Linked DNA regions of Homo sapiens: all the other regions are reported to be linked to region 6. The links are microRNA targets in miRTarBase. Many come from high-throughput screens and were not tested one by one. Region 6 holds a microRNA gene; each other region holds the end of a gene's coding sequence.

The links. The annotated mature microRNA hsa-miR-6817-5p reads UCUGCCAUAGGAAGCUUGGAGUGG and lies in region 6 at 1,043-1,066, opposite strand. An mRNA with a match to its seed (bases 2 to 7 or 8) in the 3' UTR can be bound and repressed. Matches are read on the target gene's strand: a 7mer-m8 pairs with bases 2 to 8, a 7mer-A1 pairs with bases 2 to 7 and ends in A, and an 8mer does both.
Region 1: the mRNA of NUP98 is a reported target of hsa-miR-6817-5p. Seed matches in the 3' UTR shown: 7mer-A1 at 3,575-3,581 and 7mer-m8 at 3,069-3,075.
Region 2: miRTarBase lists ZNF106 as a target of hsa-miR-6817-5p. Seed matches in the 3' UTR shown: 7mer-m8 at 2,652-2,658 and 7mer-m8 at 259-265.
Region 3: the mRNA of AGO3 is a reported target of hsa-miR-6817-5p. The part of its 3' UTR that is shown has no 7-base or 8-base seed match.
Region 4: the mRNA of ZNF592 is a reported target of hsa-miR-6817-5p. Seed matches in the 3' UTR shown: 7mer-A1 at 2,468-2,474 and 7mer-m8 at 2,150-2,156.
Region 5: miRTarBase lists SHROOM3 as a target of hsa-miR-6817-5p. Seed matches in the 3' UTR shown: 7mer-m8 at 3,220-3,226 and 7mer-m8 at 2,409-2,415.

The regions. Positions count from the first base shown.
Region 1 is chr11:3,672,305-3,676,393 of GRCh38, forward strand. NUP98 (nucleoporin 98 and 96 precursor) reads right to left here. Exons shown (of 33, transcript NM_016320.5): 33 at 2,715-4,072. The coding sequence ends at 3,855. Among named protein-coding and RNA genes, the nearest start is that of CHRNA10, 3.0 kb to the left of the region's middle.
Region 2 is chr15:42,413,718-42,417,804 of GRCh38, forward strand. It overlaps ZNF106 (zinc finger protein 106), which reads right to left. Exons shown (of 22, transcript NM_001366845.3): 22 at 1-3,643. The coding sequence ends at 3,587. Among named protein-coding and RNA genes, the nearest start is that of CAPN3, 56 kb to the left of the region's middle.
Region 3 is chr1:36,055,286-36,059,374 of GRCh38, forward strand. AGO3 (argonaute RISC catalytic component 3) reads left to right here. Exons shown (of 19, transcript NM_024852.4): 19 at 352-4,089. The coding sequence ends at 460. Among named protein-coding and RNA genes, the nearest start is that of TEKT2, 27 kb to the right of the region's middle.
Region 4 is chr15:84,802,140-84,806,228 of GRCh38, reverse strand. It overlaps ZNF592 (zinc finger protein 592), which reads right to left. Exons shown (of 11, transcript NM_014630.3): 11 at 1-4,089. The coding sequence ends at 3,836. Among named protein-coding and RNA genes, the nearest start is that of ALPK3, 13 kb to the left of the region's middle. RefSeq lists enhancers at 1,586-2,085, 2,086-2,587.
Region 5 is chr4:76,778,712-76,782,783 of GRCh38, reverse strand. It overlaps SHROOM3 (shroom family member 3), which reads right to left. Exons shown (of 11, transcript NM_020859.4): 11 at 1-3,975. The coding sequence ends at 3,607. The region is part of intron 1 of SHROOM3-AS1 (SHROOM3 antisense RNA 1); the gene reads left to right. Among named protein-coding and RNA genes, the nearest start is that of SHROOM3-AS1, 22 kb to the left of the region's middle. RefSeq lists enhancers at 554-848, 582-951, 83-1,042, 82-1,281.
Region 6 is chr22:25,452,628-25,456,716 of GRCh38, reverse strand. MIR6817 (microRNA 6817) reads right to left here and starts at 1,071; the gene lies at 1,006-1,071. It also overlaps the pseudogene CRYBB2P1. RefSeq lists an enhancer at 901-1,004.

The DNA.
Region 1 (4,089 bases), not on the chromosome of region 6:
CCTCAGACTCCCTGCAGTCATTCCCATCTGAGCCTGTTTTTTCACCTTGCCCAAACACTGTGGGCAGTGTGGGAGAAGAGGGCAAGCATTCAGTCACTTTCGGCCCTGTCTTATGAGCGCTCTCACTTGGGTAAGATATTTAAACTCTCTGGGTTTCTGTTCTCTCAATCTGGTAATGGGATTAACAGTACTCATCTTGAAAACTGCAAGGATTTAAATGAGATAACCTGATAGTGCAAGGCACTGTCTAGCACGGTGCCTAAGGTACAGCAGGTCATCAACAATATTTACACTGTGGTCCCAGTAAGGTAGCCAGGCTATCCTCAGGTCACAGGTATTTATCATGCACAGAGTTTTGATTATTTTTGTTCAAGCTGACCAGTTGCCTGACCAACAGCAGCACATACTTCCCTGGCAATCACATCCATAGCCATGACTTTGGGCATCGTGGATATGCCAGTGATTCCCTGCACTTTCTCCACCCGTCCCCTCTCCCAGGTACTCTGCTTATCTCCAACCACCTTCCTAACACACAAGCGTTTCACATCATTTCAAATTGAAATCCAACATTCACTTATTCAAGCTAGTAGAGGGGAACTGTCCTTAACTTGTTAAAGAACAACTACCAAAATACCCTACAGCCATCCTGCCACCTCAGCCTCCTGAATAGCTGGAACTAAAGGTGCACACCACCCAGCTAATTTTTGTTCATTTTTTAAGAGACAAGGTCTCCCTATGTTGCCTAGGCTGGTCTTAAACTCCTGGGCTCAAGGGATTCTCCCTCCTCAGCCTCCCGAGGTGCTGGGATTACAGGCGTGAGCCATCGTGCCCAACCAATACAAGGTTTAACAAATCCTTAGGAAAGCCTAAGAAATGAACATTTAAAGCAGAAATTAAGATTATACAGAACTCCAGTAAAATTGATTAATACGTCTAAGGACTGGTTATTTGAATAACAAAAAATCTGGAACAATTTTCTGGAAATACAAATTAACAAAACTGAGCTAAAGATGAAACATCTAAAAAGAGCAGATACTCTGCAGGCCTTTGCTTAATTATTCCAATATTTAATTCTCCAGACCTCTGTTAACTTTGGGTTCTGTTGAGAAAATAAGTTATTTGAATGTTGTAGATTCCACAGATCTATCGAATGTTGAGGTAACTGGTTCCTGTTTTATGTTTTTGAGAATTTTTTTTGAAATTAAAACATTTTTTACTATTTCAACGGGATTTTGGGATGTGGAAGAGATTGTTCAGGCCTGGCGCGGTGGCTCACGTCTGTAATCCCAGCACTTTGGGAGGCCAAGGCAGGCTTATCACGAGGTCAGGAGATCGAGACCATCCTGGCTAACACGGTGAAACCCCGTCTCTACTGAAAATACAAAAAAAAATTAGTCGGGCATGGTGGCGGGTGCCTGTGGTCCTAGCTACTTGGGAGGCTGAGGAAGGAGAATGGCATGAACCCGGGAGGTGGAGCTTGCAGATCGTGCCCCACTGCACTCCAGCCTGGGGGACAGAGCGAGACTCTGTCTCAAAAAAAAAAAAAAAAAAGAAGAGATTGTTCATCACCCTTATCTTGAACTGGAAGTTGATATTCTCTTTTATGCACAACATGGCTTCTATGATAAACCTTTGATTGAGAACCTTTTTTTTCTTGCTCTGTTGCCCAGGCTGGAGTGCAGTGGCACAATCATGGCTCGCTGCAGCCTTCAGCTCCTAGGCTCAAGCGATCCTCTTGCTTAGGCCTCTTGAGTAGCTGGGACTATGCACACACACCACCATGCCCAACTAATTTTATTTTTTTTTAGAGACAGAGTCTTGTCATGTAGCCTGGGGTGGTCTTGAACTCCTGGCCTCAAACGATCCTCCCACCTTGGTCTCCCAAAGTGCTGGGATTACAGGTGTGAGCCACCACTCCTGGCCCACAATTCCGAACACTGCTAAGAGCTAACCATTTCTATAGCATACTCACTTTCTGAAACATTCCTCTGGTAAGGAAACCAGGTCAGGTGTTCTTTGCTGGAAGTCCAACTATGTTTTGTGACTCACTCAGGTTCACATAGTGAGTCAGTAGTGGAGGGGATTCCAGCTGAGTAACCCCTATCCTGAGGCATCTAAGTTAAATGGAAGTTCCAGACAACAGAGCTGACCCACTCTGCTTTCTCATCCCTGAATTCCTGAAAGTCTCAGAAGTCTTTGGTCTAATCTTAATTGGAATTTGCTCACATCTTCAGCTTGACAGATCAAAATAAGATCTGGAATAGTACTCATGCTACTCAATTGATTCCTCTTGAAAATAGCCCTGTGTGAAGTAACATCAGCAATCATTATCCCCTTTACAAAAGGGAATCTGATTTAGAAAGGTGAAGCGTCACTCAGGGTTTAAAAACAAAACCACTATAGTAGAAGAGCGAGGAGGCTTTGAATGGTATATTCTATTGGGCAATTTGAGACCCGGGAATCTATGTGCATAAATATATGTACAGCAATCAGTATTAATCAATAATCAACTCCCTTGCCCCTAAATTTCCCCTTATAAATCTAGCCTTTGGGCTAATCTATCTTTCAGTTTAGCACCCAATTGTTCTCTTTAGCCCATGGCCTGTCTCCATTTAGAAGGCAAATTCAAAAACAGGCTAAATCAAACAAGGCCACCATAAAGATCCTCAGGGTAAGAAGGCTCAAAAATACAAAGGGAAAGCCAATACCAGGAATGCTATAAACATTTTATTTATTTTTTAAGAAAGTAGCTTCAGAAAAAGAGGAAAATATCTAGATCATTTATTTATACATATATATATTTTTTAATAAAAACCTTTACATTATCTTCATGCATAAAGACCCAGGTGTGGCCATATTGCCTGAGATAGCCCTAACACCAGCTATCTCATGCCATTACCTGGGGCTCCCTATAGCTGTCAGCAGTGTAGCAAAGGCCCTCTGCCTGCCCCTAACGCCCAACTCCATGCCTGCCTCAGTCATGGTTTGTTTTTGCTTCTGGAAGGGGTAGATGGAGGGTGGGAAATGCTTTGGAGCTAACATGGGATGAACAGGGAGGGTTACCCAACCTGCCATTTTTTATCCAAACTCTGCAGGCAAATCCAGACAGAGTCTCAGCAAGACTGAAAACCAGGGACCAAACCAAACTCTGGGAGCTTCCCACAGACATGTCACATGTGACCAAGGGTTCCTGCACATAGTAGTAGCAAAGGTATGGTGTTCATGGAACTCTAAAGGCAGGAACAAAAACAGCCCTGAAGATCAATCCCTCCGTGACAGGCATTCACTTCTGCCCTAAGTGTGTCAGAAAGATCCCATTTTGTTTCCTAACTCAGGCCAACCCTCCTTTGCCTCCAAAATTCAGTGTTAACTAACCAATTACTTAAGAGACGGATCCCTCTTCCTTCTGTGGATAGTTCATCTGTTAAGGATCCATTATCACCTGTCTCACTCCTCCTAAGGAGTCCTAGTATAAAAGGGCCAGGGTAGGAGTAGGGAAGCTGGTTGGCATGGAGGGTCACAAGATCCAGAATGGCTAGGGATGGAAAAAGAATACCCTGGTTCTTTGGGGGATTCTGCCAAAGGAGCTTTATTGACCATTTTTTTAAAGGAAAAACACTGAATGATCTTGAGGATGGTAAACTGTCTCCTCTTCTGGGTTCCAGAAGCCCTTATGCTACGTTCAGTATTAAGAAAAGCCCTGAACAAGTGGAGGATGCTGCTTCTGGCAGCAGGGAGGGAGGGTAGATGCCACAGCCAACCCAGAGAATGGCAAACAGTGCCAATCCAAACAAGGCAGGGAACCTCTGTGTGGTGTGAATGGGCATGTGACTGTGATGCAAAGTGCCTGGGGCTCACAGGCTCCCAACAGCCAGTTCTCGCAGATAGGACTGGGTAAGGCTGCGCAGTTCGTCCATGGCATAGTCCTCAGGCATGGGAAGCCGGCCAATGTGGGGAGCCAAGAGGCGCAAAGGGACTCGCTGAGGGTCTGGTGTTGAGTCGGAGGTTCTATCAGGAGGATGATGCAGACTCAGCACCACGCGCAGCAGGTTGGCTACACGTTTGGCCATGTCTAGAGAGAAAAACTAG
Region 2 (4,087 bases), not on the chromosome of region 6:
AGGAGCTGAACACTCAACTGTTAACTCTTCTGGGGAAGAAGAAAATTTTTCCCACAAAAGCAGGAGTGCAGTAGTAAGTAATGACTTTCTCTCAGATTCAAGTAACATCAGGTCAAGATAACCTTTGCTGTTAGAGTTTTGTTTGCATGGTGTGGAACTGCTTTATAAACTGAGTAGAGACGTATGCCAAAATTATTTTTAACCTAATTAAAAACTTTCACAGAAAACTTGAAGTGACTGATACTTTATCACAACGAACTGCCATTTAAACACTAGCATAGGTACACAAAAAGATTTATACTATGGTTTTCTTGGCTTTAAGCCATTAGAATTAGACAAAAGCAACCGAGAGTAACATTCTAAAAGTGGCTTCAACTACTTTAAAGACATGAGTCAGTTTTTGTCAGGTCATTTAATGGTTTCTTTCCTTCACAAAGCCACTAAATGCCAGAGTCAACACAGATCCCTGAGCCATAGCTCTTCTCTGAGGGGAAACAGGGTTATAATCAGTCACAACATTGTGGAAGACATTAAAAAAAGAAGGCAAAGTTCTGTATAATTTTCAAGACTCTTGTAAGTAGTAACACACAGCCATAAGCAGCCAAAATGCTTATGGTCCCTTTATTTCTTAATAGAGGGCTAGAACCGTTCATTTGGGGTAACACACTAATCTGGTGTTAAAAGAATTTCATGTGTTCTTGAAACAAAGGCATACTGCCACTGCTTCAAAAAAAGCCTTTGTGAAATGAAGAAAAATATGACAAACACAGGTTCCCACACGTACACATACATACAAAGGAACCTGCACACTTGCACACACACAGGCAGGTATAGGCACACAGTTCCACCAAAGCGAAGTCCAAATCAGAGTTCTTACCGATTCTACCACTCTGTAATACTCTCAGAAGTTCCCACAACTGCCCAACACCTCACCTACCCGTTTCCTGCTGCACAAAGTCTCCTTCACTCTCATCTTTTCGATACATCGTCAGGCAGGGCAGAAGGGCACTACGCCGCAGAGCATTCGAGGCTCTCAGCACACTGCCAGCCAGCGTGAAAATGCGGCTTCACTACAGCCCAGAGAAAAGGGCCAGGTTTAGTCATCGATCCAGATGCATTTTCCCGGGAAATGACCATTCCCAAACCCACAGAACAGTTTGGCTTCTCTGGATATCCTTATAGGAAATAGGGGTGAGAGGTGGGAAAAGCTTCTCAATCTCATACAGAAACAGCACAAATATTTAATACACCTTTTGCAACAAGATCTTCTCTGTTCTCCATTAAGCATCATGTAAATCTCACTAGTGTGGTTAACAAAATGGCTTTCCCCAAGGACAGAAGTCAAGAGCTTGTGGGGCCATATATTATCTAGTACTAGGCCATTCATTATCTCCTAGATTAACTCTTTTTTTTTTTTTTTTGAGGTGGAGTTTCACTCTTGTCGCCCAGGCTGGAGTGCAGTAGTATGATCTTGGCTCACTGCAACTTCTACCTCCAGGGTTCAAGTGATTCTCCTGTCTCAGCCTCCTGAGTAGCTGAGACTACAGGCACATACCACCACACCCAGCTAATTTTTGTATTTTTAATAGAGACGGGGTTTCACTATGTTGGCCAGGCTGGTCTCAAATGCCTGACCTTGAGTGATCCACCCGCCTCGGCCTCCCAAAGAGCTGGGATTACAGGTGTGAGCCACCAGGCCCGGCCTCCTAGATTAATTCTTGACATTTTTTGGATCAAGTAAGAACCACTGGAGCCTTTCCTGGAAAAAAGAACACATACTCAGTCTCACACACAATTTCTGGGGGCTCACAGACCCTCTTGAAGCCTATCCATAAACCCCCTGGTGAAGTCCCCCTGCCCGATAGCCTGAGGGAAGACATGTGAGTGGATATATGTGCACTAACAGGGGCGAAGACAGACCTGGATGGTCTGCAATCCCAGAGAGCATGAGGCACCATGTCCCAAAGCTTGGTATGTGGCCCTGGGCTCCTCCCCCAATTTTATCTCTCTGAAGAAGCTGAGTTTTTTTTTTTTTTTTTGAGACGGAGTCTCACTCTGTCACCAGGCTGGAGTGCAGTGGCACGATCTCAGCTTACTGCAATCTCTGCCTCCCGGGTTCAAGCGATTCTCCTGCCTCAGCCTCCTGAGCAGCTGGGATTACAGGCGCCCACCACGCCCGGCTTTTTGTATTTTTAGTAGAGACGGGGTTTTGCCATGTTGGCCAGGCTGGTCTGCAACTCCTAGCCTCAGGTGATCTGCCTGCCTCAGCCTCCCAAAGTGCTGGGATTACAGGCGTGAGCCACCACGCCCGGCCACGTTCTGAGTTTTGAGGATCCAGAAACAAAAGGCTGGAAAGCGACACTTCTACAGGTTTACTGATGAGTCCGGAGAAAATCCAAAAACAAAGCCCCACTGAGGGTTTGTGAATTTGGCTGTTCTCAGTGGCCAGGCAGAGTCTCTGCTCCACTCTTCTTTCCCAGCTAGCAGGGAAGTGAAGGCAAAGAACTGTCTCAGAAACAAGTCTCTAGGAAGTCTGCTTGAGGTCCTGAAAACTGTATTCAGATGCTTTATTCTAACCCCCTCTCCCCCACCATCTTAGTTGCTGCAGGGGGGTGGAAAACACCCCGTGAGCCCAGAGGAATATTCGATGGCTGCCATCGGTCTAGGCACGGCCATACAGTGGGAGAGATGGAGGCTGGCAACTGAACAAACCAAAAGGGTTCAAACCAACATTAGGCTTGCAGGGTCAGACACTAGAAAGGAAGATAAAGGTACACCTCCAGTTCAACAGCCTGACAGGATCTGTAACAGGTAGTGCCCAGGTTCAACAGCAGATGTAAAGGTAGACGTTAGGTCTACGCACTGCCTCACACTGAGCTTTCTATCCACATTTACAGAGATTTACTAGAAGTGGTGTCTGTAAGGACTTGTCACTATGTGATTTGCTTCCTGAATTCCTAAAAGATAGTCAGCAGAGCAGCCACTGTTTGTCAAAAATCTACTGTGTCCTTTAGCACTTAAAGCCAGCTCTATCTATAAAGCAAGAAAACAGTGACACACACTGCACATAATTGTTAAGAAAGAAAACTATTTGCTTCCAGTTTAAATACCCAGCTATTACAAATGGAGAAATTAAAACTGATCCTCAAAGTCTGGCACTTAAACAAACTTGTACTTAAAAGCCTGACTATAGGTTTAAACCATCATAAGAACATAAATTAAAAATTGCAAACTGAAATCAATAAAATATACATATGATTAGGGTCAAACTGGGTAACCAATTAGGATCTGTATCTTCAATAAACATCTGGAGAACGCAAATAGCATATATCACTATATGCCATGCTGTCCCAGAGAAGTATGGTTCCTTAACATTTGTCTAAATCTATTTAAAACCTCCAGCAAGAACTTAAAAGTGTAATTTATCATCCCATAGAGCTGCCCAGACTTATGCTAGGGGTATGCCTGGCTAGTAACCACTTTCTCCTTCCTTACTTCACCAAGAAAGGGAAGAGAGTGGCCTGTGTGGGGGGCCAATGTGAAAATAGTTCAACTAATGACTTCCCAACGTGGGAGGCAAAAAACTTCATGAATCAATTTTGCTGTCATCTTCAGCATGTCGTTCAATATGTCCTGCAGCATCCTAGGAATGAAGGGAAAAGGGCCCATGAGAGAGAAGTCGATAGTAAGACAGGAGAAAGTCAAAGCCAAGGAAAGCCATGTGGGTCCATTCCACCTAGGATCCAGACAGGAAAGGCAGTTAGGAGCCAGCACTTTGCTAACTTACGTGAAACCATGTACTTAAAGGTGAGCTGTTGTCTCAGCACAAGAGCACTGTAATAAATCTCCAGGTTCAGTTACTGGATTTGAAACATCTGAAAACATTCTCTTTAGGCCCTTTCTCAAAAATGACCTAATTCTTCATTTGCAACTTCATTAAGCTACCCCCCAAATCTCTGAATCATAAAAATAAAAAACCCTAGGCCCTCCCTATATATGGCAATTCTCAATAATAAAAAAGGTTTGCTAGCCCCTGCTCTGAGCAGTCTACTGAATCCCAGGCAAACCTCAAGTCCCACTAATGTAC
Region 3 (4,089 bases), not on the chromosome of region 6:
TGAAATATATTGTCTAGGCTCATTAGTAATAGAATCATGTAGTAACTTAGTTGTTTTACTACATTAATTCAAAGGAGAGATTATTGGTAATAAAGTGATACATTCAGACAGATAGACAAAATGATACGATATCTAGGTTTGCTTCTAATTAATTCTGGGGAGGTGAGAGAAGTAAAACAAAATTGGCCTTGAGTTAATAGTGATTGAAGCTGAGTGATGGACACATAGATTGTTACACCAGTCTCTTATTTGTTAATAATTTTGAAATTTTCTACAACAAATAGTATTTTTCGGAATTATTACATCAGAATAGAAAGTTTGTTTTTGTGTTCATTGCCACTTCTCTTACAGTGCTGAAGGAAGTCACGTTTCAGGACAAAGCAATGGGCGAGATCCACAAGCTCTTGCCAAGGCTGTACAGATTCACCAAGATACCTTACGCACAATGTACTTCGCTTAAATAGTCCAAGTATATTCTCTGAGAGGAAGTACTGAAAGATGAATTGACATACAACGTATGTTTCCAGTGAAGTCAATTGAGTAAGGACACCTCCAGCCATACAGAAACCAACACTGTGTGGGGGCCAAGGTCTGATCCTTATGTTAATACAAGGAAGATTGTTTACTTCATCAAGGAACACAGCATCATTATGCAATATGAAACCAGCCAACTGCTTTTTGTGCGGTCTCCTATAGGAAGTATCGCAATTGTTTTGTTTTCATTTCTTGTAGTCTAACCCTTTTAATGCCTTTACCTCAAGTTGCTTGGCAGCACAACTATCTTTGCAAAAAAAAGTAAAGAAAAAGTAAATGATGGTTTAAAAAATACACACCTTCATGAATAATCAAAGTGATTTTTCAGAATTATGTGTGCAAAAAATTAATGTGCATTCATATATTCTTGTAAAAGGTGTCTGTGTATTTTTAAAATATATACATCCATACTTCATATGCATATATATCTAGATCTGGATTGATAATAGATATATATGTGTCTGTTATATATTTTAGAGTTCATTCCATTGGGGAATTTTCTTTCCCTTTTATTCTACCCCCACTACCGCCTTTATTTCTCTATTTCCCTTGCCTTCATCACCTACATTTTTTTCCCAGTCCTACCAGTGACATTCAAATGTTGATGTATCTGGTTCGTTTGAATATAAAATATGGCAAACTAGAATTCTACTTTTATTTTGCATACCCTACTCCTGACTCCTATCTCATACACAATTCTGAGTTCTCAACTCTTGATATTGCTGTCTTAAGAAACAAAATTTTATATATATATGTATACATACATACACAGACACAGACACACACATATATATACATAAAATAACTTTCTGTGAGAGTGCGTCTCTCCCCTCCCACTCAGAACATACATTTACCATTTGCGCAATTTGTATATAAGCAGTAGCAACCTGAACTATTCTTTTTCTTTTTTCTTTTTCTTTTCTTTCTTTTTTTTTTTTAATGAGACAGAGCCTCGCTCTGTCACCAGGCTGGAGTGCAGTGGCGAGATCTCGGCTCACTGCAACTTCCGCCTCTCGGGTTCAAGCAATTCTCCTGCCTCAGCCTCCCGAGTAGCTGGGTTTACAGGCATGTGCCACCACACCCAGCTAATTTTTGTATTTTTAGTAGAGACGGGGTTTCACCGTGTTGGCCAGGATGGTCTCGATCTCTTGACCTTGTGATCCACCCGCCTCGACCTCCCAAAGTGCTGGGATTACAGGCATGAGCCACCGCACCCGGCCTACTATTCTTTTTCTTTAGTGAGTTTGTTAAAGCTGCTATAAATATAAAACCTGTCAGAAGTTGTAACTTTCTCTCTGGTAAGTGATGTGTATTCTGAAGCCTTCTGTTTCTATGGGTTATACATGGAAATTCTTTAAAGGTTTTATAAAGGGTAAATATTTTAAAAGATTAGAGCTCTGTAGGGTTGAGACCTCTGAAATTGAGTAGAGAGAAGAGTTTGTTGAGGGATTTTTTTGTTTTGTTTTTTGATAGTTTACTTGCTGCCTCTCATACCTTAATGTGATTTTCATATATTTTTTATATATATATATGTATGTGTGTGTATATAAACACATATGTATGTGTTTGGAAGTATAGCTTCCTTTTCTTTTATATTTATTAGAATAGTGCTTTAATAATTATAGAATTGTATTGGCAGCATCTTTTATAGAAATATAATCATGTTTATTTTAAGAACTGACAACTTGTTTTTGCTATCTTTTAGTGCAATAAGCAGTTTTAAAGGAAAGTTGTGTCTGCATCTTTACCATGGATAGTAGGAGGAACAGGCACCTCCATAGTTTAAAAGGGCAAAGAATACAGCCTTAATTTCAGAAGGAAAGTTTTGTAATTTTCAGTTTTAAAGCATATCTTTTAAAATTCATCATGATAAAAGGCTGGACGCGGTGGCTCATGCCTGTAATCCTAGCACTTTGGGAGGCTGAGACAGGTATATCACCGGAGCTCAGGAGTTTGAGACCAGCCTGGCCAACGTGGTGAAACCCCGTCTCTACTAAAAATACAAAAATTAGCTGGGCGTGGTAGTGGGCACCTCTAATCCCAGCTACTCGGGAGGCTGAGGCAGGATTGCTTGAACCTAGGAGGCGGAAGTTACAGTGAGCCAAGACTGCACCATTGCACTCCAGCCTGGGCAACAAAACCAAAACTCCGTCTCAAAAGAAAAAAAAATCATAATGAAAATGAAGTGAAATTGCCTAAATGAGTCCAACTTGAATATTAGAAATAAAGTTGAACTTTTATATAATTGTGAATAGCTTAACATATTTAAATTATTTGCAAATAGATTGTGTTTATTGAAGAATCATATTGGCTAGATGCCCATTTTCATTTACTAAAATGAATCAGGAAAATGCAAGATGATATTTTAAAACTTTTGCTAATGTATCACCAGTATAACTTTCCTTTTAAAATTAAGGTGATAGTAACAAAGGAAGTTAGGACTTTGATCATTTTAAATCAGTTAAATCACTGAAACGTGGGAAATTGTTTTACAAAACTTTTATTGATTACACTTTAAGGTATTAAAAAGTACTATAAAGCTATCAAAACTGAGTTTATCAGTAACATTGGATTCAGGGGAGCTTTGCACTTTGTAACTCATGAAAATTGCATTTTGATTTTTTTTTTTTTTGCACTGGTTCAGAGTATAGATACTACAGATTGTTTCCAGTGGGCATTGTTGTTAGCCTTTCAGAATTCCATCTGCACGTGAAACCTAATGGATTTAGATCTTTAGTTTCTCTCTTACCTGTAATCCACTATTATTGCCAATTCACTGTATTTTGAGCCTAAAATCTGAGCCCATGTCCTCTGACAGGCATGAAATCTTTTGTCCCTCTGCCAGAAAACTAAGAAAGTACTGTATTTTGTATGTTTATTATTTTGAAGTGTCTGAAATGCAATTTACAACACTGTTGCAAAGAACTTTACAAAAGGTAATATTTGTATCGTATATACATTTTTTCTCCCAGCCTTCTCCCATCTCCTCCAGAAAAATTTCCTATAAAGATGGATTTTTTTACACTGAAATTTTACTGAATATAGTCAGGATCATGGGCAAGAGAAGAAAATAGTATACCCAAGATGATAAAAATTTAATTCGTCTATGCTTGATCAGTGTGAGTAAAACATCTTCCTTTATCATGGGAGCTGCACAGATTCATGTGGGAAACTTTAGGGAATGACTGTAGATACCCTTTCTCTATGTACTCTCTCACCTAATTTTCAGTCACTCATATATGCTAGAGTGGAGCCCTTAATTTAAATCTATTTGGAAGGACTTTTTTAAGAGGAAAAATATTTTTTCTAAATTATAAAGCTTTACCTTTTGAGTGATTTCTTTTTTAGAGTGCTCTTACACTAGTCAGCATTGCTAGTTTAAAGTTGATTAACTTGAAAGAGTATGTATACTATATTTCTATTTTGCTAACAAATTGGTATATTAATTACCATTGGTTCTTAATTACAAGAAAACTTGTGCTTAGAATTTTAAGATAAAAGGCTAAGTGACAAATGCTTCTTGAAATTTGTCCTATTTATTGTTGCATTTCTGGT
Region 4 (4,089 bases), not on the chromosome of region 6:
TGAACCCCTTAGTCAGGAGGACACATTCTAGAATCTAGAAGGTGCTGTCTTGGTCAGATCAGACCCTGAGAGAACAGCTGTAGCTACCAATTGAATCAGATTCATTCATTCATGCAGCATTCACTCATTCATCCATATACTTTTTGAATCACTGTTATATGCAAGGAACTTTTAAAGAATTACTCTGACCCAATGTATGAATTTGGAATAATCTCCAAAATACTATATAAGAAAGCAAGCTTCAGAACACTGTGTATAGAATTCTACTATTTGTATTAAAAATAGATATATAAATATACATATTTATAAACTTGTAAATGCATAGAATTGCTATGAAAGGATACACAACATATAGATAACAGTGATTAACTCTGGAGAGGGGACTAGAGGCTGACCTCCATGGGGAAGCTTACCATTTATTGTATACCCTTTTGTATTGTGGAATGTCTTACCATGTATATGTATTAATTTTTCAAAACAAAAAAACAAACAAACAAAAAAAGAAACTGCCTGGTGCTGAATATACAGTGGTGAACAGGACAGAGGTTCCCCAGTCTTGGGGAAGGCAAAGTGTTGAGCTTACTGGGCCACAATTATCAAATTTTTTAAAACCAGACTGTTTACATAAGTTAAGGGGAAAGTTCTTTCTACAACAATTAGCTTATAATAATTCAGCATATCATTTTACAGAGATAAAGCAGTTGGAAAATAAATACTAAGTAATTTGTCAAGTCTTAGACTGTATTAAGTTGTAGTTTCTACAAGGGAAGGGATCTTATCTGTTTAACTTGATCAGTAGAGCATTCACTGCAGCATAATGTGCAGATAAACGCTTGTTACAGCAAGCATTTTCTGATGATGACAAATGATAGCACAACCATTTAAAAAAATCTTGAAAAAGAAAAGACCAGAAGATGCTGGACTCTGAGGGAACTGTGTGTTCCCTGTGAGGGTTAGGCAACCTTTTCTAGACAGTCCTCAAAAAATGATGGTGTTCAAATGGCAAGGTAAATCCCAATGAGAATGAAAGGTTGTAGAGATACCACGTTTCGAAATGTCAACGGTGTGATGCTCGAGGCCCTCCTTGGGGTGACAAGGCACAGATGGACTCCAAAGAGAACCTGGCACTTGGCAGGGCACCCCAACTGCATGGGAAGTAGGAAAGCAAATGTCTGGGGGGCTGCAAACCACTGACAAGCTGGCAGCCTGTCAAAGCAGCCTTGGTCACTAACGAGCACAGTGGTTGACAGGCTTGACTCAGCACCATCACTACAGGTAGCCTCTGCACATCGTTTAACCTCTCGGAGCCTCGGTTTCTTCTCCGTAAAATGGAGGACAACTGTGAGATCTTTGTGAGGATTAAAGGAGAGAATCACCAGAAAGTGTTCAGTAAGATGCTAGGCACACAAGGAGGGCTTAAAATGCTATCTTCACTCTTACTAAAGAATGGCTAGGTGTCTGGGCCACTTCATAACTGCTAATCAGCATCCAAGTCCAAACAGCAGACAAAATGTGCTCCACCCTCCATGCCCTAAGGTCAAGTAAAGATTTCCCCACATTCATATAGTGTTTTATAAACTAGAAAATACTTTCACATTCATAAGCTCACAAAAGCCTGTGAAGCCAGTTGGATGGGAATTACTAACTCTATTGTGAAGGAGAGGAGACAGTGAGGTTAAGGGATTTGTTAAGAGCTGGCTAAGGACAGAATCCAGGCCAGGACCCAGGTTTTCCAGGGACTGGCTCAGCATTTTTCCAACTCACGTTCTTCCCAGGAAGGAGATGTATATCTGGGGTCACGACAGGTGGTCAAACCTGCAATTCTACCATCTCTGCCTGCTCTCCAGCTACCACTGTGTCTGAGCAGGAAGGGATCCAGCCAGTCATTTCAAACCCTTCTATCAGCCTCCTCTGGAACCCATTCCTGTGAATGGACCCAGGGTACAGGGATGGCTTCCTGTAACTAGAATTAGGCATGGGACAACAGCTACGGCAGGTCTAGGTCTGGCTTTGCAGGTAGCTGGAAACAGGCCTGGGTTGCCCCACTGCCAGCTGGGGAGGCAGGGAAGTGGCAGCCTTGCCAGGAAGAGCAATTATTAAAAGGGTGCAGACAGCGAGAGTCTCTCTGAAAGTGAGGCAACCTTTCCCACTGCCATTAGCATTTCCACTAAAAACTTGGCATTTGATAGAGGGGAAAAAATGTATTTTTTCAACTGTGAAAAGGTCAGGCATATTTATCTGACTTAATAATTTATAATTGATATTTAATGCCTCCTTGAAAGATGACCTCTAAGCACCCGGCCAGCACCCTCTTCCCTTTACTCCACTACATCCTGCTGGGCGCAACCCCATGCCACCTGGGTTAGAGGTCAGACGACACCTCCACACAGCCTGCTCCTCGTGCTTGGGTGGGCCCTGACTCCACCATCAGTGAAAAGACAGCCAGTCTCCCAAGTCTAATCCCAGTTCTGCCACATTTGAGTTCTCTGTGGCAGTAGCGATGCTGTAAGAAATAAGAAACCTCTTGAATGCTATAAGAAAATTATAAAATTCCTCTTCTCCACCCCCTTTTCCCTTTTTACCAGTAAGGGGTTCTCTTATGTTGAAAATCAACTGAAGGAAAGATGAAGGTGCCTAGAAAATTTCGATACGCCCTAAAGCCAATGTCACTAGCCTGGAGATCTTGGAGGTGACTTGACCATTGTGGAGCCGCTCCCCTCACCCCTTCAGAAGGTCTCTAGAGAACTAAGTAGTACAGGGCTCCCGGTTTCCTAACCACAAGCTCCAGAATCTAGAGAAGGCCTTCCTTAGACAGTAGGAAGTATTGTTCTCCCTCAGAGATGGGACAAACAGGGGAAGTCTGGGAAAGACCCTTGGGTGGAATAGGGTGGGGCCAGGCTCACTTGGAGAGGAATACAAGAGCCTACCTGCATGGTGAGAAGATTTTTTATTTGAAATATAGTCTGAGCAACATGAGTGTAGCCAAGAGGAGTAGGGGCTGGCCTGCCTGGGGCAGCAGCCTCTCAAATGGCACGAGAGCAGTACAAATATTCCAATGTCTGTGTGCCCCAACCCCACCTGTCAGGAAAGGCAGAACAGCAGAACAAAGACCCACCCACAGCGCCTTCTCAAGGGGTCTGGTTCTTGGTGCCTGCCTGCCTTTGCCTTACCTCCTGCTCTGCCCAGGTTCCAAACAGAGGTGTGCAGCAGAGGTTTCTCCCACCCCACCCACAGAGACATGATGAGCCAGTGTGACAATTAGTTCTCAGGACTATTTTGAGGGAAAAGAATCAGAGAAGACAGGGAGGAGGGGCAAGGTGATCAAGGGCCCTCGCCAAACCAGACTAGGCAGAGCTCTCCCAGAGGGACTGTGTCAGCACCCCTCATTTCCCTCCTTCTCAGGATCTAAAGGCAGGAAGGAGAGCTGGTGTCTGCAGGAAAATAGAGCTCTGAGGAGCGCCCTGGCTGAAGGCAGCAAGCGGGAACCTCCCAGAAGAGCACAGCCGCTGTGGGGTTCAAGCCTAGTTGACAGCAGTGGGGTTGGGCCACATAAGCAGCTTGGGGTTGGAAGGACACAGACAAGAGATGGGGCACCAAGAAGCAGCGAAAAGCCATAAATAACAGAAGCAAATTCAGAGCTGTGAGGGTCCTGGCCGACCCCACATTTCCTGGGGCTGGGGGATACCCAGCACTGGCAGCTCAGGGCAGACACTACTCCAGGGTACAACCGGTCACACTCACACTGGGGGCAGAGCCTTTTATTTTCCACGGTCCGCAGGGCAGGTGGAAGACACTTCGGCACCACCCCTGACCATGCACACTGCAAAGTCTCCGGTCACACCTGAGGGGACAGTGTGTGGCTGTCCTGGTCCTGAGAGGCCTGTGGTTGACTGTGATCATTGTGGCCACCATCGTCCTCAGGGGCCGGGCCCAGCAATCTCCTCGCCTCTGGGTCAGCTGACAAAGGCTCACCGGCACATTCTTCCAGTCCATTCTCTCTAGTCTCCATGGGCACCTCCTCCCCGGAGCCCTCCTCTGGCTCTGCCACCTCCACTGCCATCTCCGCTGCCGCCGCCTCCTCTTCCTCCT
Region 5 (4,072 bases), not on the chromosome of region 6:
CCCTTCACATTCACTTGACCACTTTTTATACCTTGTAGGAAATGAAGTTATTTCTGGCTGTAGTTATTCCTTTTTCTAATAGTAAGGTGAATAAAATTCATGTTGTTCTAAAAGGAAAATAATAACTCCAACCTAACAATGAAGCCAGCACTACCATGGACAATTAAACTGAAGAGAAGTAAATTTGGAACCACATAAGAATAAAAAGCCAACATTTCCTTGGGTATCCAGAGACCCAGTATCTTAATAAGAGATGCCTGAATAACATACAAGTTTAAAGGTAGAGCTTAAAGCATATATTTACCATTTAAACTCATGAATTATTTTAGATGAGATATTAACAGTGGAGGAATAGGAAAACTGGGATGTCCCAGGTTGTTTCTCCTTTATAGCTCCCTCAAAGGACCTCAGTTAAGCCCACACTCCTCACCTTAAAAGACAGCCACTGATTCTTAGGGGTGGACCCAAACTTGTTAATCTTCTAGTCTGGAAACCAGCTGTGCAAAACAAACCCTAAAATGTTCCCATAGAGCAAAGGAAAAGATGTTTGGTTTCGACAGCATCTGGTCTCATAGAGAAACTCAGGCACTTTCACTGTGGATCCTCCCTTCATTCTTTGGGGTTAAGTGGCCACCGCAAGAAACAAAACAGCATGAGAAATGGCTGAGTCAACCAACATGTAGTGACATGCCCAGGAACTTCTCAAGTGGCCCAGGAAGTGGAGGCCTCCTGATTTTCTCGCAGGACATTGTCCTTTCCTGGAACCTTGCGGGTGGCTGGAGTATCTGCATTTGGAGTATTGCAAGATTATCTCACCTGAGTTCTGACCAGAAGTGTATCTCCAAAATTATCACATCCACAAAGACAATTATTGACTGTGAGCAAACATTCTCAGTGACATCACGCGTATTCTGAAACCCTGACCAACAACATGCTCCTTACTGTTCTCATGGTCTTGGCAAAGGATACTGTTGGGAGAAAGAAGAATGGTTTCTACTGTAAATGAGTTTTTAAAAATAGTGGGAGAAGAATGCAAAATAGGAAAGGGATAAATACATAGATTTCTAGCTAAACGCATTTAAAAGGAAACTTTGAAAATTTGGTTAGTGATTTCTTTAAAGTACAGAGGTCAAGTCCTATTACAATAAATATCACATCCACCTAAAAATTAGATTTCAAAGTCTCACTTGGTGCCTTACCCATTTCACATAACAGAACAAAGTTTCCACATAATGAAAGAATGGACACAATCCTAGGAGTGTCACAAGCTTTCAGATGTTTGTGGCATGCCAAGCAGCATTGCCTGTTACTGTGCTGTGGGAGTCAATTACTTTTATGTCTATAAATTAGAAAAGTGGCTGGGTGAAGTGGCTCATGCCTGTAATCCCAGCACTTCTGGGACCAAAGCGGAAGGATCCCTTGAGCCCAGGAGTTTGAAACCAGCCTGGGCAACATAGCGAGACCCCCGTCTCTATAAAAAATCAAAAAATTAGCCAAGCATAGTGGTGCACACCTGTGGTCCCAGCTACTTGGGAGGCTGAGATGGGAGGATGGCTTGAGCCTCAGAGGTTCAGACTGCAATGAGCTGTTATCGCACCACTCTGCACTCCAGCCTGGGCAACATAGTAAGACCCTTTCTCAAGAAAATAAATAAAAATTTTTGAGAAAGACTGAATATGTAAAATGTTCCCCAGTCAAATCCCGAAAAATGGTCATCTCGAAGAGTGTTGGGAACTGGGAGCCCCCTGGATTCCTCTGAGGAATTTCACTAAGAATAACTGTAGACGTTTGCTGGCTGTCTTCCACCTGGCTTGGCTTGTGAGGGCTCATTCAGTATCAGCAAGACACACAGGTAGTTACTGATGGAGTTAATTTCAGGCTCCCATGTTGGCCTAAGACTGATGACCATGCAGTGTGGCTGTTGAATGCTGTCACTGGTTCTACTGCTTTCCTGGGAGACAGGACCTCTGAATGAAAACATCCCTGGGAAACCAAGGTGCTGTCTTATTTGTATCAATGGAGTCATGCAGTATATAAGCTCCAAAGAACAAAGCCATAGCTTTGGTTGACTATGCAAAGGAAACTTCTGGGTGGCCAGTTGTTTATAAGTTAATCAAAAGACATCTCTACTGGAGACCCAAACTACAATTTTGATATTCTTACATAGGAGATAAAACTTCATTAAGTAATGAAAATGTACTAAGGGGAGAAGGAGCATTTGGTTCCCTTGTCATTTTTTTTTTTTTTTTACTTCAAAATTTTACTCCCCCAATTTTCTAAGACTGGCTACTATGAAACTCGTAAGCCCAAATCAACAAAGGTGGCCACCAGCCACAGATCAAACGTGAAAAAACAAATCTACCTCTAGCACAGCCTGGGATGTACTACCTGCTCAAAGTATAAGGCTACTGCCATCTCCAGCAGCTGTAAACATAGCCTGGCTGCCAGCCCATAACCTCCTCAGCCTTCCAGTTTGTTTTTATAAGCTTACAACTGGGGCTACAGAGTAACCTCTGAAATGTTATTATTGAAACATGATAAAGCAAAATCAGTCTTCAGAGGTTAAGGAGGCAGTTTTTAATCAAAGTGTGGTCAACAGGTTTGACATTTTAGAAAACATTTTTTTTTTTTAAAGCATCATTAAAACAGCCTCAATAAACAGGCCGTATTTAGCCCAAATCTTGTTCAGGAGAACAGCATGGGCTCCGTTTGAATTTTGTTGGATTCTGGACGTCCTCCTCCTATTATATAGGTCTGAGAGTTGTCTTTGTTAATAAAATTTAGCTTTGTTTCCCCACCAGTGATAATGACATGAAGCACTAGGAAATGATGCAATAACCGCAGTGCATGAGGCCTTCCTCCTGGGGAAGGTGTGAGACAGGAGGGGAGCAGGACTCCCCCATACTCAGTCCAGTGGAAGCGCAGAATGCCTGCTCGTGTTGGTAAAAATAAGACAGGAATGTAAGAAAAAAAGTCTTCACGCTCAACGTGACTATCTTTGGAATTCATTTCATTAAGGTTTTCACAAAATACAAAGCTCAAACGTAATCATCTATGTCCACCACAAAACAGAATCAAATAAGTGGTTAGCACAACAAACATAGTGATCTTTTCCATTTTAAAAAATATAAATAACAATGTTCAAGGTTTTACAGTTTTCTTAGTGTGTGTCTTTTTAAGGCTTTATGTTGCAGACCCTTCATTAATGGTACTTGTACCCTGCCATCAGGATACACTGCCCACCAGCAAGGAAGGCCACTGTGGATACATTCCTGAGGGGGACACACACTGATCCATGTTGCCTCAGCCTGTTAAAAACTAAATGATCAAACACCCTCCAATCAGTTCTCAGTTTCATTAACTTTCTTTCTACTACAAAGTAATAATAGAAAGGGGTACGTGTCCAGCAGCATTCGAGCTCTCAGAAGATCAATCAGGAAGGGCAAGAAGGAAAAAGGCTTCCTCCTGGAGAGAATTTTTTTCCTTTCATCAGGAACAAACACCAATAACCCAGATAGTTCAAACAGTGGTTTGTACTGAAACATTTTTCAGATTAAATAGTGTTGAGAGAAACAGTGATCTTTTGGTTGGGTATTTTAGAAGAGGTTAAAGTGGAGAGGTTAATGTTGGGAAAATACCACTGAAAGTACAGCCCCCAGCAGGAATGGGCTCACTCGTGAGGTTTGGGGGCAGAGCCAGGGCCCCAGCCTTGGGAATGAAATCTGAGGGCAGGCTCTCCAGCAGACACTTGACCTGCTCCTGGCCCAGCTTGATCTTGTCATCCAGCTTCCGTTGCTCAATGAGGAGCGTGGACTTCATTTTCACGAAGTGCTGGTAGTCCTGGAGCTGCTCCTCTGAAAGGTAATTGGCCAAGATGCCCAGCACTACTCGCTCCCTGCGATCCAGGTTCTCCTTCAGCTCCCGGGCATCCTCATGCTGACCAGCCAGGATCTTCCTTTTCTCGTAAAGAGAGCTCTGCCAGGGAAAATTGGACAGATCAATGAAGGCCAGGGAAAGGGAGAAAAGAGCCAGACTCCCTGCAAGGACACCTCTGACAGGACTGGGAAATATC
Region 6 (4,089 bases):
TAGGCACCTGAGATACTTTGATTTTTCTTCATTTCTACATCTCTTCCCATCCTCCTGTCCCTATGACATTTTCCTTAGTTATCTCATCTCATCCTTTACACATAAAACCCTTATCCCTCAGACATAAAATCCTCTTATGCCATTTAGCAGATGAGGAAAGTGCGGCACAGAGAGGTCAAATGACGTGCTCAAGGCCACACAGCTGGGAGCAGCACAGCCAACTTGGGAACCCAGGTCTGTGGGGTGCAAAGTCCAGTGTTCTCCAACCTTCCAGTAGGTCCTGGGAGGAGCTAGACTGGGCTTGGAGGGTTTGAGAGTGTAACTGAGCAGTGATGGGCCCTGTCCCCTTCCTGAGAGTTGACACTCTCACACACTAGTAAGAATCAGGATCTCAGAAGCACTGAAAACTCACACTGGCACGAGTCTTGAAGAAGAGCTAAACCACCTTCTCCTCCAGCCCCAAACTCATAATTTCTTGTAGTATTTCTGATGGCTATTGGTTATTGAGCAATGACGGGAGTTGCCCAACCCTTGGGCGCGGGGGGCGGGCACCAACCACCTAAAATAGAATGTGAATAGTGCCCTCTGGAGCATTTCATAGTCTTGTGATTGGAGCCTTCTGGAGTTGCAGTGTGACAACCCTCAAGCTAATAAGCACATTGGAACCTCAGGACAGTAGATACCAATATGCCCATTTTACAGATGAAGAAACTGAGGCTCAGGGAAGTAAAATGACTTTTGCAAGGTCACCCAGTGAGGAGGTTCCTCACCAATCAGAAGGGGCACAATGCTAGAGGGGCGGGCTCCTTCCTGGTCCCAGGACCTCCTGCTCCAAGGTGGCAGAGAGAGAAAGTAGGATGATGGCAGGGGGCTCACCACTTTGATGGGCCTCAGGCTGCTGAGTCTGTCCTCTGGCTGCTGGTCCACCAGTCCCAGTGGGCGTACTCGCCCTTCTCAAACACAAACTGCTCGCCCTTGCAGTTGGCCTGTTCATAGCTCACCCAGCTGCCATGGAGTCAGAGAGAAAGGGGGCAGGTCAGTTCCACTCCAAGCTTCCTATGGCAGAATCCTGGCTACTGATGTTGACCCCTAGGGTTCACTCTTGCCCAGCCCGGCAAGATGTAATAGCCCCACCCAAACCTTAGCACAGCAAATCCAAGTGCAAAATCCCCTCAGTTATCTAGAACTCAGTGCTATGCTGCCTTTACCCACCTGGAACACAGTTAAGAAATAAGAAGGCAGTCTAAATAACGGCCCAGCAACAAATACCAATATATAGACGCCATGCACTAAAGCCAATAGTATGCTGGTAAGTTAATAGCCAACTCTCAAAAAACAAAACGAAAATTAACACTCTTGATTTGCAGCGTTTGCCAATTTCCATGGTGTAAATGCTCCCACTGTGGCAGATTTCAAGCTATCAATACGACACGGCTGCAAGTGAAGTTAGGAAGAGAGATGCACAGTCAGCCTTCACCACTGAGAACTGACTCTAGAACATCTCTGGGCCCAAAGCCCCTCTCTTTGGATCTGTTTCTTCTCTTGTTCCTGTTGTTAGACTCTGCCCAAACTCTGTTTTTGTAGATCCACATTAGAAGAAAAATAGTACATTAAAGAGGAAGGGATGGCTTTCAGGTCGGGCATGGCTAATAGAAGAAAGCAGAAAATAGAAGAAAGAAGGCACAAATCTCAAAATGATTAGCATTCTGGGACCAACCAGTGCAGAGGCGAACATTTCAGCAATGTGCAATAATGGCTTTTCAGAGGAATGATCTAAGTCATTAACAAAAGAGGAGATCATGTTTATTATCCTCTTTTGGAAAAGTAGTCTTGATCCAGCAATTCTACTTCAGGCAATGGTTCCTTACAAAACAGTTGTCAAGGGGCTGGGCACTGTGGCTTATGCCTATAATCCCAGCACTCTGGGAAGCTGAGGTGGGCAGATCACCTGAGATCAGGAGTTCGAGACCAGTGAAACTCTATCTCTACTAAAAATACAAAAAATTGGTCAGGCATGGTGGCTCATGCCTTTAATCCCAGCACTTTGAGAGGCCGAGGCGGGCAAATCACGAGGTCAGGACTTCAAGACCAGCCTGGCCAACATGGTGAAACCCCGTCTCTACTAAAATACACAAAAATTAGCTAGGCATAGTGGCAGGCACCTGTAATCCCAGCTACTCAGGAGGCTGAGGCAGAAGAATCACTTGAACCTGGGAGGCGGAGGTTGCAGTGAGCCAAGATCACGCCACTGCACTCCAGTCTGGGCAACAGAGTGAGACACTGTCTCAAAAAATAAAAAATAAAAATAAAGAAAAAGAAGACGTTCAAGTGACCAACTGACATGAAAAAATGCACTACCTCACTAATCATCAGTGAAATGCAACTCACAAACACAATGAGATACCATCTCACGCTGGTCAGAATGGCCATTTTTCCAAAAGCAAAACAACATGCTGGCGAGGCAGGAAAGGAAAGGGAACGCTCCTACCTTGGGGAACGTGAAAACAGGTTCACACTGTGGAAAGCAGTGTAGAGATTCTCAAAGAACTTAAAACAGAACTACCATCAGACCCAGCAATTCCACTACTTAGTATCTACCCAAAAGACAATAAATCCTTCTATCAAAAAGACACATGCTCTCGTGCATTCATGGTCGTGCCATTCACAAGAACAAAGATGTGGAAGCATCCTAGATGACCAGCAACAGTGGATTTGATTTTTTAATGTGGCGCATACACACCAAAAAATACTACGCAGCCATAAGTAAAACACACAATCATGTCCTAAGCAGCATGGATAGACCTGGGGATTATTATGTTTAGCAAACCAAGGCAAGAACAGAAAACCAAATACTGCATGTTCTCACTTATGAGTGGGAGCTAAACAGTGAATACACTCGAACATAAAGATGGAAACAATAGACACTGGGGACTATCAGATGGAAAAAAGGAGGCAGAAAGGGAGTGTGGGCGGAAGAACCACCTGACGGGCACTTTGCTCACTGCCTGGGTGACGGGGTCAGTGGCCACAAGCCTCAGTGTCATCAAAGGTTCACATGTAACTAAGCTGCAATTTAATCAAAATAAAAGTTGATTTAAAAAAAAAAAAAAAAAAACAGGGTTGCCCTGGGCACAGTGGCTCCCGCCTGTAATCACAGCACTTTGGGAGGCTAAGGCAGGCAGATCACTTGAGCCTGGGAGTTCGAGAGAAGCCTGGGCAGCATGGCAAAACCCTACCTCTACAGAAAGTACAAAAAAATTAGTGGGGCATGGGGATGCGCACCTGTAGTCCCAGCTACTTGGGAGGTTGAGGAGGGAGGATCACTTGAGCCCGGGAGGTTCAAGGCTGCAATGAGCCAAGATCGCACTGCTGAACTCCAGCCTGGGTGACAGAGCAATAACCTGTCTCAAATAATAATAATAATAGGATTAGGATATATTATAGATAGATAGATAGATAGATAGATAGATAGATAGATAGATAGATAGATAGATAAAACAAAACCTACAGTCATCCAGGCAATCACTGACTGGCATAAATATAGAAAGACAACCGAATGGACAAAATGAGGGAGCCAAGTAATCAACCCAAAATTATATTTAGGGCACACATTTTTCAAAAGCACACCAAGGCACACCAGTTGAGAAAACTGGGTAGTCATGTGCAAAAGATTGAAATAGCACCCCTATGCTGCCCAATACACAAAAATCTACAAAAAATAAATCGAACAGTTAAATTCAATCCTGAAAGCAAAACACTCCAAGGAAAAAACATGGGATAAGCATATATTTGGGGGAAACTTGACACTGTGCACACAGGTCGCAAAAAGAAAAGGAAAAATTAGGGGGAAAATACGCATAGACAATAAAATGGCTTAACAATCTCTTTTTTTGGATGGAACACTGAAATCACTGGCAACAAATGCAAATATAAACATGAGAGACTAAGTACAACATTAGAGCTGCTGCACAGGACAGAACAAACGAACCCAAAGAGAAGGCATCTTAGACTAGGCATGGTGGCTCACGAGGTCAGGAGTTTGACACCAGCCTGGCCAACATGGTGAAACCCCGTCTCTAGTAATACAAA